Homo sapiens: one gene and its partners. Changing the gene in region 2 together with the main gene of any one other region gives a genetic interaction. Each region holds a gene or a part of one and is shown on either strand. Other genes may lie near its edges. The genes, in order: CTNNB1, CREBBP and MYB.

What was found.
Region 1: of CREBBP (region 2) and CTNNB1, changing one enhances a phenotype caused by changing the other (phenotypic enhancement), as found in Homo sapiens cells (one study listed by BioGRID).
Region 3: of CREBBP (region 2) and MYB, changing one enhances a phenotype caused by changing the other (phenotypic enhancement), as found in Homo sapiens cells (one study listed by BioGRID).

The regions. Positions count from the first base shown.
Region 1 is NC_000003.12:41,233,852-41,237,504, reverse strand, and holds part of CTNNB1 (catenin beta-1), read right to left. Parts: coding exon 3,638-3,653; intron 3,367-3,637; coding exon 3,208-3,366; intron 1,782-3,207; coding exon 1,662-1,781; intron 1,157-1,661; coding exon 1,006-1,156; intron 918-1,005; coding exon 796-917; intron 1-795. UniProt on the Homo sapiens protein: Key downstream component of the canonical Wnt signaling pathway.
Region 2 is NC_000016.10:3,769,214-3,772,866, forward strand, and holds part of CREBBP (CREB-binding protein), read right to left. Parts: intron 1,774-3,653; coding exon 1,357-1,773; intron 141-1,356; coding exon 1-140. UniProt on the Homo sapiens protein: Acetylates histones, giving a specific tag for transcriptional activation. Mediates acetylation of histone H3 at 'Lys-18' and 'Lys-27' (H3K18ac and H3K27ac, respectively).
Region 3 is NC_000006.12:135,201,675-135,205,327, reverse strand, and holds part of MYB (transcriptional activator Myb), read right to left. Parts: coding exon 3,579-3,653; intron 2,112-3,578; coding exon 2,004-2,111; intron 1-2,003. UniProt on the Homo sapiens protein: Transcriptional activator; DNA-binding protein that specifically recognize the sequence 5'-YAAC[GT]G-3'. Plays an important role in the control of proliferation and differentiation of hematopoietic progenitor cells.

The DNA of each region.
Region 1 (3,653 bases), on a different chromosome or scaffold from region 2:
AAAAACCCAAGTAACACACTACTCACTGGTAATTTGCTTTTTTTTTTTTTTTTTTTTTGTGTTGGAGTCTGGCTCTGTCACTGAGTGCAGTCTGTTAACTCCTGGGTTCAAGCAATCCTCCTGCCCCCGTCTCCCCAGTAGCTAGGACTATAGGCATCCATCTCCATGCCCAGCTAAAGATGGGGTTTCACTATGTTGCCCAGGCTGATCTTAAACTCCGGTCTCAAGAGCTGCATCGTTGTAAACCTAACAATCTCTCTTTCCATTCACTCAACAAACATAATCCACTGTATGTCTGTGTACCATCAATGATCTCTATAGAATGGATAAAATATCAGGATGTTCTAGTTTTATTAGAAACAATGTTTCAAGGAACCACCTGTACTGAGGACAAATGCTGAAGAAAAATTCATAGCAGAAATTCAAATAGAAAAGTTTTATTAAAGTTTAGTAAAAAATACTGATAAACTGTCCTCTTAACAGTGTTTAACACTGCCTCTTTCCTTACATCCTTTTGAAAAATCTTCTTTAATCTGGTAACATTTTTCATCTTTCTCCCTTATGAATTATAATTTTAAATAACACAACTTATTTGTAATGATTCTGAACAGACTCTTTAAAGCTTGTATTATAGTTCTTCCTCAGAGCAGTTGCTAGACAGCATAAAGAAGAAATACTCAAGCCAGGGAAACATCAATGCAAATGAATGTGTACTAAGTGTTTTGAGAGGAAAGAACAAGCTGCCATACCTGCTCTAGGAAACTACCAGATAAATAACTGCTCACATTTCCCTACCTCATTCCAAGCCATTGGCTCTGTTCTGAAGAGAGAGCTGGTCAGCTCAACTGAAAGCCGTTTCTTGTAATCTTGTGGCTTGTCCTCAGACATTCGGAACAAAACAGCAGCTGCATATGTCGCTAAGAGACAAGGAGAAAAAGGCCCTTGAGGAAAAACTGAGACTTCAATGTACACATCTGCTAAAGGCTTTGGTTCCTTTTTACTTACCCACACCTTCATTCCTAGAGTGAAGTAACTCTGTCAGAGGAGCTGTGGCTCCCTCAGCTTCAATAGCTTCTGCAGCTTCCTTGTCCTGAGCAAGTTCACAGAGGACCCCTGCAGCTACTCTTTGGATGTTTTCAATGGGAGAATAAAGCAGCTAAGGAGAAAACACAAACAAAACCTAATTAAATCTAAAGCTAAAACATGGCAAGCCCCCCACTGTGGTGCAAACATTCCCAATTCAGAGTGCAAGAGGCATTCACACTGTAGTAAATAATATTCTCTGAATTTTATGTCTTGGGGTGTTTAATGCTCTGGAGCACTGGATTTCCATAATATTTTTTAGCTATAAACCCTTTCTTCAGAGGCAGCTCTAACTGATCTAAGATTTGGAAAACCCAGAATTGGTTGGGGGTCTATGCCCTGCCTCTGGCAGCCCAGGTCAGCTCTCCCCTCTAGGCACCCATAAAAGTGAAATGTGAAATCTCCTCCCTCTTCTCAAGTCTCAATGTTTCTCTTACTGACCAAAAAATGTAGGGAATTTTCATAAAATTAAATGTTGGTAACCCTATTATGGTCCCTAATTTTCTGAAATGTTATTAGTCATTACAATCTGGAAATTTTATGGACATAAAACCTAGAACACTTCACTTAAAACATACCTGCACAAACAATGGAATGGTATTTAGTCCTCTGATAACAATTCGGTTGTGAACATCCCGAGCTAGGATGTGAAGGGCTCCGGTACAACCTTCAACTATTTCTTCCATGCGGACCCCCTCCTGCCAAAAGAAACATGGTTAACAAACAGGGCATTCTCCTCTGTAAAGTTTGAGGAACAATTATTAGACTGTAATTATTTACATTATATACCCGAAGTTCCCCGTAACTTGCAATTAGTTCAGGAAGGAAGAAGGATTCCATTAACTTGAATGTCACTGAAAAGAGGCCTCCTGGCAGCACTAATTCAAAGCAGCACCCCTCCCCCATACACAGTGCAACAGAGCTTCCATACAGCGCTGAATCCCAAAGACAACTTTCCTACAGTAAGGGCACCAATCATTCTGGGTAAAAGGTATATAAAAAGAGAAGATGAGAAAGTAATGCTCAGACTATGTCAACGTTTTTCTTTTACATGCCCCCTCTATTTTTGTATATCTTCCATGTATTTGGTGAAAACTTTGCCAAGTTTTAGCACCAACTGCTAAAACTAACCGAGTTGCCAGCAGAAAAATTCACTCCTCACTCTTCCAAGACTATTCAGCTGACAGCCTCATGTATAGAAGGAAGATAGCTTTTGCAATATGTAAGTACCATCTGTTTCTCCTGTTTCTGGATTTGAGTTTTAAAAGGGGTTATTATTCTGCTACATTTAGCAGCTTTTATAAATAACTTGATTCTTACAAGGACACAAAAACTCTCTTCTTCCTAGAAAAGAGATTTAAAATAAAAGGTGCCCTCAACGTTCTATTAAGTCACCTCATGGAGATGGGCCAATACCAACAGTAATAAATGAAGAAAGCCAAAGCCCCAATATGAGTACATACACAAAGCAACCAGCAAAATGAGATTCCTAACATCTGTTCTGGTAGGCTCCATCTTTGTTTTCTAAACTAACCTAATAAGGTCTTAAAGTCTGAGAAATCAGAAATGTCATTAGACTATACTTTTAATGAAGCTACTTTTAAGACACAAACTTTGTATCAAAGCTTCAGGTTGAGATTTTTGTGGTTAAGAGTACAGAAATGCTACTACTTATTTCTGAATATTCTTAGGTCCATGAAAAAAGTTTAACTCACAGAAAAGATAATAAAACGGACTGCTAAATATTTATAGTCAAAATGCATGATGAGGCAAGGGTAAGAGGCTCTGAAATTACACAGATTTGATCTCAAATTATGACTCTACCTCTTCCTAAGGAAGTGGGCCTTTGTGTAAATTAAATGAGAACACTTTATGAAACACCTAACCCAACCTTTGTAAGACTGACCATGTGAAGGACGTGTCCAAGGAAATATCACTGGGGCCACACTATGCCTTATTTTCTCTGCAGCCATAGAAATGTGTAATTATTTATTTATTTACTTTGTCATTAGCTCTTCAGGAAGACGGATGGGGGGAACCAATGACCAAAGAAAGAAGTTCAGGATCCTTTGGATTTATGCATTCCTTTTAGATAGCCAGGTATCACTGTAAGAATTTACCTACCACAAATTGCTGCTGTGTCCCACCCATGGACGTACGGCGCTGGGTATCCTGATGTGCACGAACAAGCAACTGAACTAGTCGTGGAATGGCACCCTGCTCACGCAAAGGTGCATGATTTGCGGGACAAAGGGCAAGATTTCGAATCAATCCAACAGTAGCCTGAAAAACAGAAGGAAGAACTGGCATACAACTCAACAAAATCATTTTCTTACCCTAAAATTCCCACCACACTAAATCTATTGGTATCAACTAAAAGTAGTTCTGACTACACAAACATTTCAGAATCTTACCCCTATCGCAGCCATACTTCCTACTTACTAAGGAATACAATTCCTACTTATTGATCACTATGCTTAGACAGCCATCCAACAGCTAGAGATGCTTCATTTTCAATTCTGCAACAAAGGTAAATTCTACTTTGACAATTTACCTTTATCAGAGGCCAG
Region 2 (3,653 bases):
TCAGTGTCCTCTGCTTGGGTCTCCGTCTTCATTTCCAGCACAGGTACGTCAGGTCCTGGCTGCTGGGAATTGGTTTCTGCGCTGGCCACCGAGGAGGGGGTAGGGACTCTGTTATCAATGCTGGCTGCTGCCTGGGAAAGCTGTGAAAAAACCGAAAGCACTGACTTCAGTAAGCAAGGTAACATAAATGATCTTCAACTATGCTGCTCATGCAACCTACAATTTCCCATTAACATTTCTCAATACTGATCCAGCAGGTGCCCTTCTGTGAAACCGAAGAACAGGGGTTAAAGTAGGAATGAGTTCTAGAGGGAGGTAACAGCAGCCAGAGGTACAACTCAGGTCTTGCCACAAAGGCAGAGGAAACAGCAGAGCTTTTCAAACTTTGACATAAATTTATTTTCTCGAAGTTTTCTAGCTAAATCATGAAATCTCATATTTTGAAATTAATTCCCTTCAATATGGTGGTTAATGTGTATGGTAAAAGGCTGAATTATGAATGCCTAAGCACATCTGAAGGGAGGGAAATCAAGTGCCTACCCAAAGACAGTGTTACCCAGCCTGTGTGAACGGTAGGAACACGGGTGCTGGTGGAGTAAATGAACATTACACGAAGGAACCACTAAAAGAATTCCTAATTTGCAAATTCTTACTCAATGGAATTTTTTTTTTTTTGAGACGGAGTCTCACTCTGTCACCTAGGCTGGAGTACAATGGCGCAATCTCGGCTCGATACAATTTCTGCCTCCCAGGCTCAAGCGATTCTCCCGCCTCAGCCTCCCGAGTAGCTGGGAATACAGGCACCAGCCATCATGCCCGGCTAATTTTTATATTTTTGTAGAGACAAGGTTTCACAACTTTGGCCAGGCTGGTCTCGAACTCCTGAGCTCCGGTGATCCGCCTGCCTCAGCCTCCCAAAGTAGTGGGATTACAGGCGTGAACCACCGCGCCCAGCCTCAATGGAGTTTTAAGTAAACAAACAAAAGATGACAATGTCTCGCTCTGTTGCCCAGGCTGGAGTACAGTGGCGTGATCTTGGCTCACTGTAACCTGTACCTCCTAGGCTCAAGTGATCTTCCCACCTAAGCCTTCTGAGTGGCTGGGACTACAGGACTACAGGCACACACCACCATGCTTGTCTGGTTAAAAAAAATTTTTTTTTGCTGGAGACGAGGTCTCACTATGTTGCCCAGGATGGTCTTGAACTCATGGGCTCAAGTGATTCTCCCACCTTGGCCTCCCAAGGTGCTGAAATTATAGGTGTGAACCACCGCGCCTGGCCTGACACACAATTTTTATGGGAAAATTATCTTCTAAGAGTCTTGGCCCAAAAACAGCAGAGACAGAGAGGCTTACCGGTGTGCCAGGAGGCTGGGCGTGCACAGGCGTCGGCTGTTGCTGCGATGACTGAGGGGTAGCCACAGACGGGGGCTGAACTGGGGTTTGAGGCTGCGGGGTCACCTGGGCCTGGGCTGCTGCCTGGACTGTAGGGGTGCTCTGGGTTTGGGTAGCACTGGGCACTGAGCCAGGAGTCGGGGTGGGAGTCTGCCCGGAAGACGACACAGGAGTTGATGGCTGAGTGGGAGCTGCTGGCTGGGGAGGAGTCATCCCAGGTGGTGTCGTGTGCTGGAGAGATGGCATGCCAGCAGCCGTGGAAGCAGGAGGCGGTGTTGGGTGCAGTGGTGACTGTGTCACTGGAGGGCAAGGTAGCTGGCTGGCCTGAGGCCCCAGCATGTTGAGAGGGTTAGGAAGAGCAGCACCAGGCACCTGTCCCTACCAGAAATGGACAGAGTATGGTAAAATTATTTCCCCCGTTTGAAAATGTGATGAAACATTTGAAAAATTAAATGTATGAAAAAAAAATTTTTTTTTTTGAGACAGTTTCACTCTTGTCGCCCAGGCTGCAATGCAATGGTGCGATCTCGGCTCACTGCAGCCTCCGCCTCCTGGGTTCAAGCAATTCTCCTGTCTCAGCTTCTCGAGTAGCAGGGATTACAGGTGCCCGTCACCACGCCCAGCTAATTTTTCTGTTTTTAGTAGAGATCGGGTTTTGCCATGTTGTCCAGGCTGGTCTCAAACTCCTGACCTCAAGTGATCCTCCCGCCTCGGCCTTCCAAAGTGCTGGGATTACAGGCGTGAGCCACCGCGCCCAGCCAAATGTATGGGAATTTAATCACATTTTCTTGGGAGTGTTCTGCTTGTGAAAATTCATCGAGCTATACACTTGTAATGGGCACTCCTCAATAACGGTAAAACTACACACGTTTCTTATAGTCTGATTTATATAATTAAAACAACCATTGAAACTTATGGCTTAAACACACACATCTACAGCAGTCCCCTCATATCCACTCGGATACATTCCAAGACCCCCAGTCTTGGAACGCCTGAAACTGCGGATAGTACTGAACCCAATATTTACCAAGATTTTTGGATCTGACAACCAAGGTGGACACTCAGTGACTAAGAGGTGGGTAGTGTCTACAGTGTGGAAATGCTGGACAAATAAATGATTCACATCCCTGGGGGCACAGAGTGGGATGGTGACAGAATTCATCATGCAACTTGGAATGGCACTCAATTTAAAACTTTTTTTTTTTTTTTTTAAAAAAAAAAAGACAGAGTCTCGCTCTGTCACCCAGTCTGGAGTGCAATGGCATGATCTTGGCTCACTGCAACCTCCATCTCCCGGGTTCCAGTGATTCTCCTGCCTCAGCCTCCTCAGTAGCTGGGATTACAGGCGTGCAATACCATGCCTAGCTAATTAATTTAAAATTTATGAATTGTTTATTCCCAGAATTTCCCATTTAATATTTTTGGACCACAGTTGACCCCAGGTAACTGAAACCTCAGAAAGTGAAATGACAGATTGGGGGAGCTACTGTACATTGACCCAGCCTATAAGCTTCATGTTCTATAACATGTACCCAATGTTCTTTAACATTTTCTAAGCTTAGCTTAGAAAAAGGTATTTTTTTTTTAAGTTGCTTCTTCCCTGGGGACTATAAAATAAATAAATAAAAATAAGAATAAAAGTTATTGACCATAAATATATACATCCATAAGTACCCTTAACAATTAAAAATTTAAAAAAAAAATTCTCTCTGAAACACAAACACACACACACACACACACACACACACACACACACACGTTAGTTACTGAAAGAGAACTGTTTCAGTGCAGTGGTTCTATACTGGGGATACACTTCAGAATTATTTGTGAACATTTTAAAAATGATTCTGAATCACTGTTCTAGAGCAGGGGTTGGCAATCTCCCAGGGCAAACACACTGAGCTGCTTGTTTCTGTAAATAAAGCTTTATTGGCACACAGCCACCTCATTTATGTACCACAGCAGCTTCTGCACTACAAGAACAGAAGTGATGAAAACCAAGATTGAATGGCCTGCAAAGCTGAAAATATTTAGTATCTGGCCCTTTACACGAAGTTTGCTAATCCTTGTTCTAGAGAAATGAAATGTTATGGAAAGTTAAGAATAATCATTTAGTGAGGAAATCTAATATATAATAATGACTTATGCAGCATTATTTCACATTAAAAACTCAAAACAAGGCTGGGTACGGTAGCTTACTCCTGTAATCCCAGCACTTTGGGAGGCCGAGGTGGGTGGATCACCTGAGGTCAGGAGAT
Region 3 (3,653 bases), on a different chromosome or scaffold from region 2:
TAACTTAATTAAAACACGAATAGCAGTAGTTGAATTCTGTTCTCTAGAAACCAAGAGCCAAGTAACTTAGGTGGGAATAATTAAAAAAAAAAAAAAAAGCAAAAGCTTTTCTTCTGGACCTAAGAACAGCTTTCAGGAAAATTTTGAAATGGCTGCCCTTTGCCTTGAAATCTTTGTAACTCCCTTTCTGGGTTCCTCTTATGTCTGGGTGGAGTTCATTCTCTTCCTCATCTCCCAATTATTTGTGATATTCTTTTTTTTGAGATGGAGTCTCATTCTGTCACCCAGGCTGGAGTGCAGTGTCATGATCTCGGCTCACTGCAGCCTCTGCCTCCTGGGTTCAAGCGATCCTCCTGTCTCAGCCTCCCGAGTAGCTGGGATTAGTAGAGATGGGGTTTCACCGTGTTGGCCAGGCTGGTCTCAAACTCCTGACCTCAAGTTATCCACCCGCCTTGGCCTCCCAAAGTGCTGGGATTACAGGCATGAGCCACTGCGTCTGGCCTCTTTGTGGTATTCTGAGTCTTCTCCACACGGGGCCAACTCCAGCCTCACTGACGCAGGAACTTGTCCAGATTCCCCATAAATACTGACTCCCTGTCTCACATTCCAGTCCACAGCCATTTTACCAAAACAATTGCTGTCAGAGAGAGGCCAGGAAGGAAGCAATCTGATTTAATTAAACAAAATGTGCTTGCAATCCTTATTTTACAATAATACTACGCACTGGCTAGGTGCGGTAGCTCACACCTGTAATCCCAGCACTGTAGGAGGCCGAGGTGGGCAGATCACTTGAAACCAGGAATTCGAGACCTGCCTGGCCAACATGGCAAAACCTTGTCTCTATCCAAAAATACAAAAAAACGGCTGGGTTGCCGGTGGCTCACACCTGTAATTCCAGCTAATTGGGAGGCTGAGGCATAAGAATCACTTGAATCTGGGAGGCGGAGGTTGCAGTGAGCCGAGATCACCCCACTACACTCCAGCCTGGGCCACCGGGTAAGACCCTGTTTCAAAAAACAAAGCAACATCAACAAAAAACCCTGAAAAACTAAGCATCACAAATACTTACCGGGCAAGTTTTCAGATTCTCACAATTTGGAAGGAGAAACTATCACAAGAATGGGAAATCCCTTTAAGGTAATGGGCAGACTCAAAGGCTGCTGTCCTATGATCGTGCCATTTAACTTACAGCAAGAAATATGACCTTCAGCTTCTGAATCCAGGCTCTTCACTTCCTCTAGGGTTATGAAGTTTCCCTCTGCATGGCACAGGGGGATGGAGGAGAGGGCTCTGCAGGTGGCTGGGTATTGGGCTATTTAATGTCAGAAACTGCTTTAAATAATTTAGGGAAGCAAAATTTGCATTCTTATTTACATTTGGCTCAGGATTAATTTGGAATTGGTTATATTTCATCAACACACACCCACTTTAGGGTTACAAGGGAAATCTCTTTTGATATTAAAACCTGACAGCAGATGGTCAACTTCAGATCGGCCTCACAACATTGACAGTTGACTTTCTTATTCTGACAGTCAAATACATTGCAATTATTTTCTGTCTGACTAATTTCAGACTTCATTTAAAATTGGAACAGTCTCTGAGCTTTGGTTGCCTAGGGATACAGCATAAAAAATAAAAAATTTGGAACATAAAGTAAACTATATTGATATATTTTTATAAAACATTTGAGGGCAGAAGAAGATAGTGACACACGTGTAATACATCTTAGTCTCAGTCACAGTAAGAAATGTTTCATTTCATCATGCTTTGGGGAATCTGCACTGATAAAAATTTCTAGCATGTCTCATATGAGTAGCAAAAAGGAATTATTGGATTTTTCTAGACATCAAGAATTGTATAAAAGCATTACTCCCCTATGTCTAAAATGTTGAAAACGAAAAACAGACCACCAGCACTACCATCACCACCACCACCACCACCACCAAAGATGACAGTTTTTCAGTGAATGAATTTTAAAATACCAATGTTGGAATAGTAATTACCTGCAAGGGGCTCGCCAGGGACCTGTTTTTAGGTACTGTAAATGCTTTGAGAACATTGTCTTCATCTTCTGATGCTGGTGCCATTAAAACGGAGCTTGTAAGAATATTCTAAAGGGAAGAGAATAATTTGAAATTTAAATGAGGTTGGATAATATGAGAGCCACATTTTTCTAACACTGTGGAGAGTAGATTACTATGAGATGATACACATTAGCATAAAAAAATGCAGTCATCTGCCAGAAATTCTCCCCACTATGAGCTAAAAGGAGAAATCAACTATGTCTGAACCTTAATCCCATTGTGGCAAACATCACCACAACACAAAGCTCCTTTGGGATCCCAGAGTTCTAGGCATGTGTTAGGCACTCAAAAAACATCTGCTAAATGAATTAATAAATACATGCCTTTCAAAATAGAAGATTTACTAAGTTCTGGGGAGAGAACACTTTATTTCATATATTGGTACAGAACTATCAATATTTTAGAGCTATAAATTATTGGCAAAAAATGGTGAAAAGTAGGGAATTTAGAACAAGACCTTCTGAGTTCCAACCCAGCACCATCCCTTATTAGGTATACAATCTTGAGCAAATGACTAAGCCTCTTTGTGCCTCTGTTTTCCAGTTGACATAATAGAAATGATAATAATACCCACCTGGCCGGGCGCGGTGGCTCACGCCTGTAATCCTAGCACTTTGGGAGGCCGAGGCGGGTAGATCACCTGAGGTCAGGAGTTCAAGACCAGCCTGACCAACATGGAGAAACCCCGTCTCTACTAAAAATTCAAAATTAGCTGGGCGTGGTGGCGGGTGCCTGTAATCCCAGCTTCTCGGGAGACTGAGGCAGGAGAATCGCTTGAACCCGGGAGGCAGAGGTTGCAGTGAGCCGAAATCGTGCCATTGCACTCCAGTCTGGGCAACAAGAGCGAAACTCCGTCTCAAAAAAAATAAAAATTAATAAAAATAATACCAACCTTACAGGATAATTGTGAGAATTAACTGAATCAATTCATCGAAAGCCCCTAGAGCAGTACTTACCACTTAGTACCTACTAAATAAATCTTAGCAGCTGTTATTAGCTCTGATTTTCCTTAAGACATAAGGACAACCCTTCACAAATTATAAACTTTAAAAATGGTGGTAGTAACCCAAAGCAATTGGGTACAATACTGGGCATCTACTATAGACAACGTGGTTGATACCATATGAGATGCTACACAAACCAAACAAGAGACAACTTAACAAGAAGACAATATTATTTAGAAGACAAATAAAGGAAAATATATAAATGAACATAGTTTTTATATCCATGTAGATTTTTTTAAATGGCCAAGGCACTCAAATAATGAGAAAACAAATAATGAAAAAGTCTGCAATGTTTCTAATACATGAAAAAATCTCAACTTTATACTCTACATTAATAATCATTTTTTAAAAATCATGTGCAGGAGAACATTTAGAAATAAGATGTGTTAAAGAGGGAGTGCTGAAACCGCAGCAGCCCTATGCCACACACAGGATTTCATGAGGCACCAGTGTCACATAACAACTTGGGGGCTGGTGCACACGTACTTACCGGTGCATCTGCCACAGGCGAGGTCTGCGTGAACAGTTGGGTATTCAGACTGTCCCCTTCCCAGTGGTGTGAGCA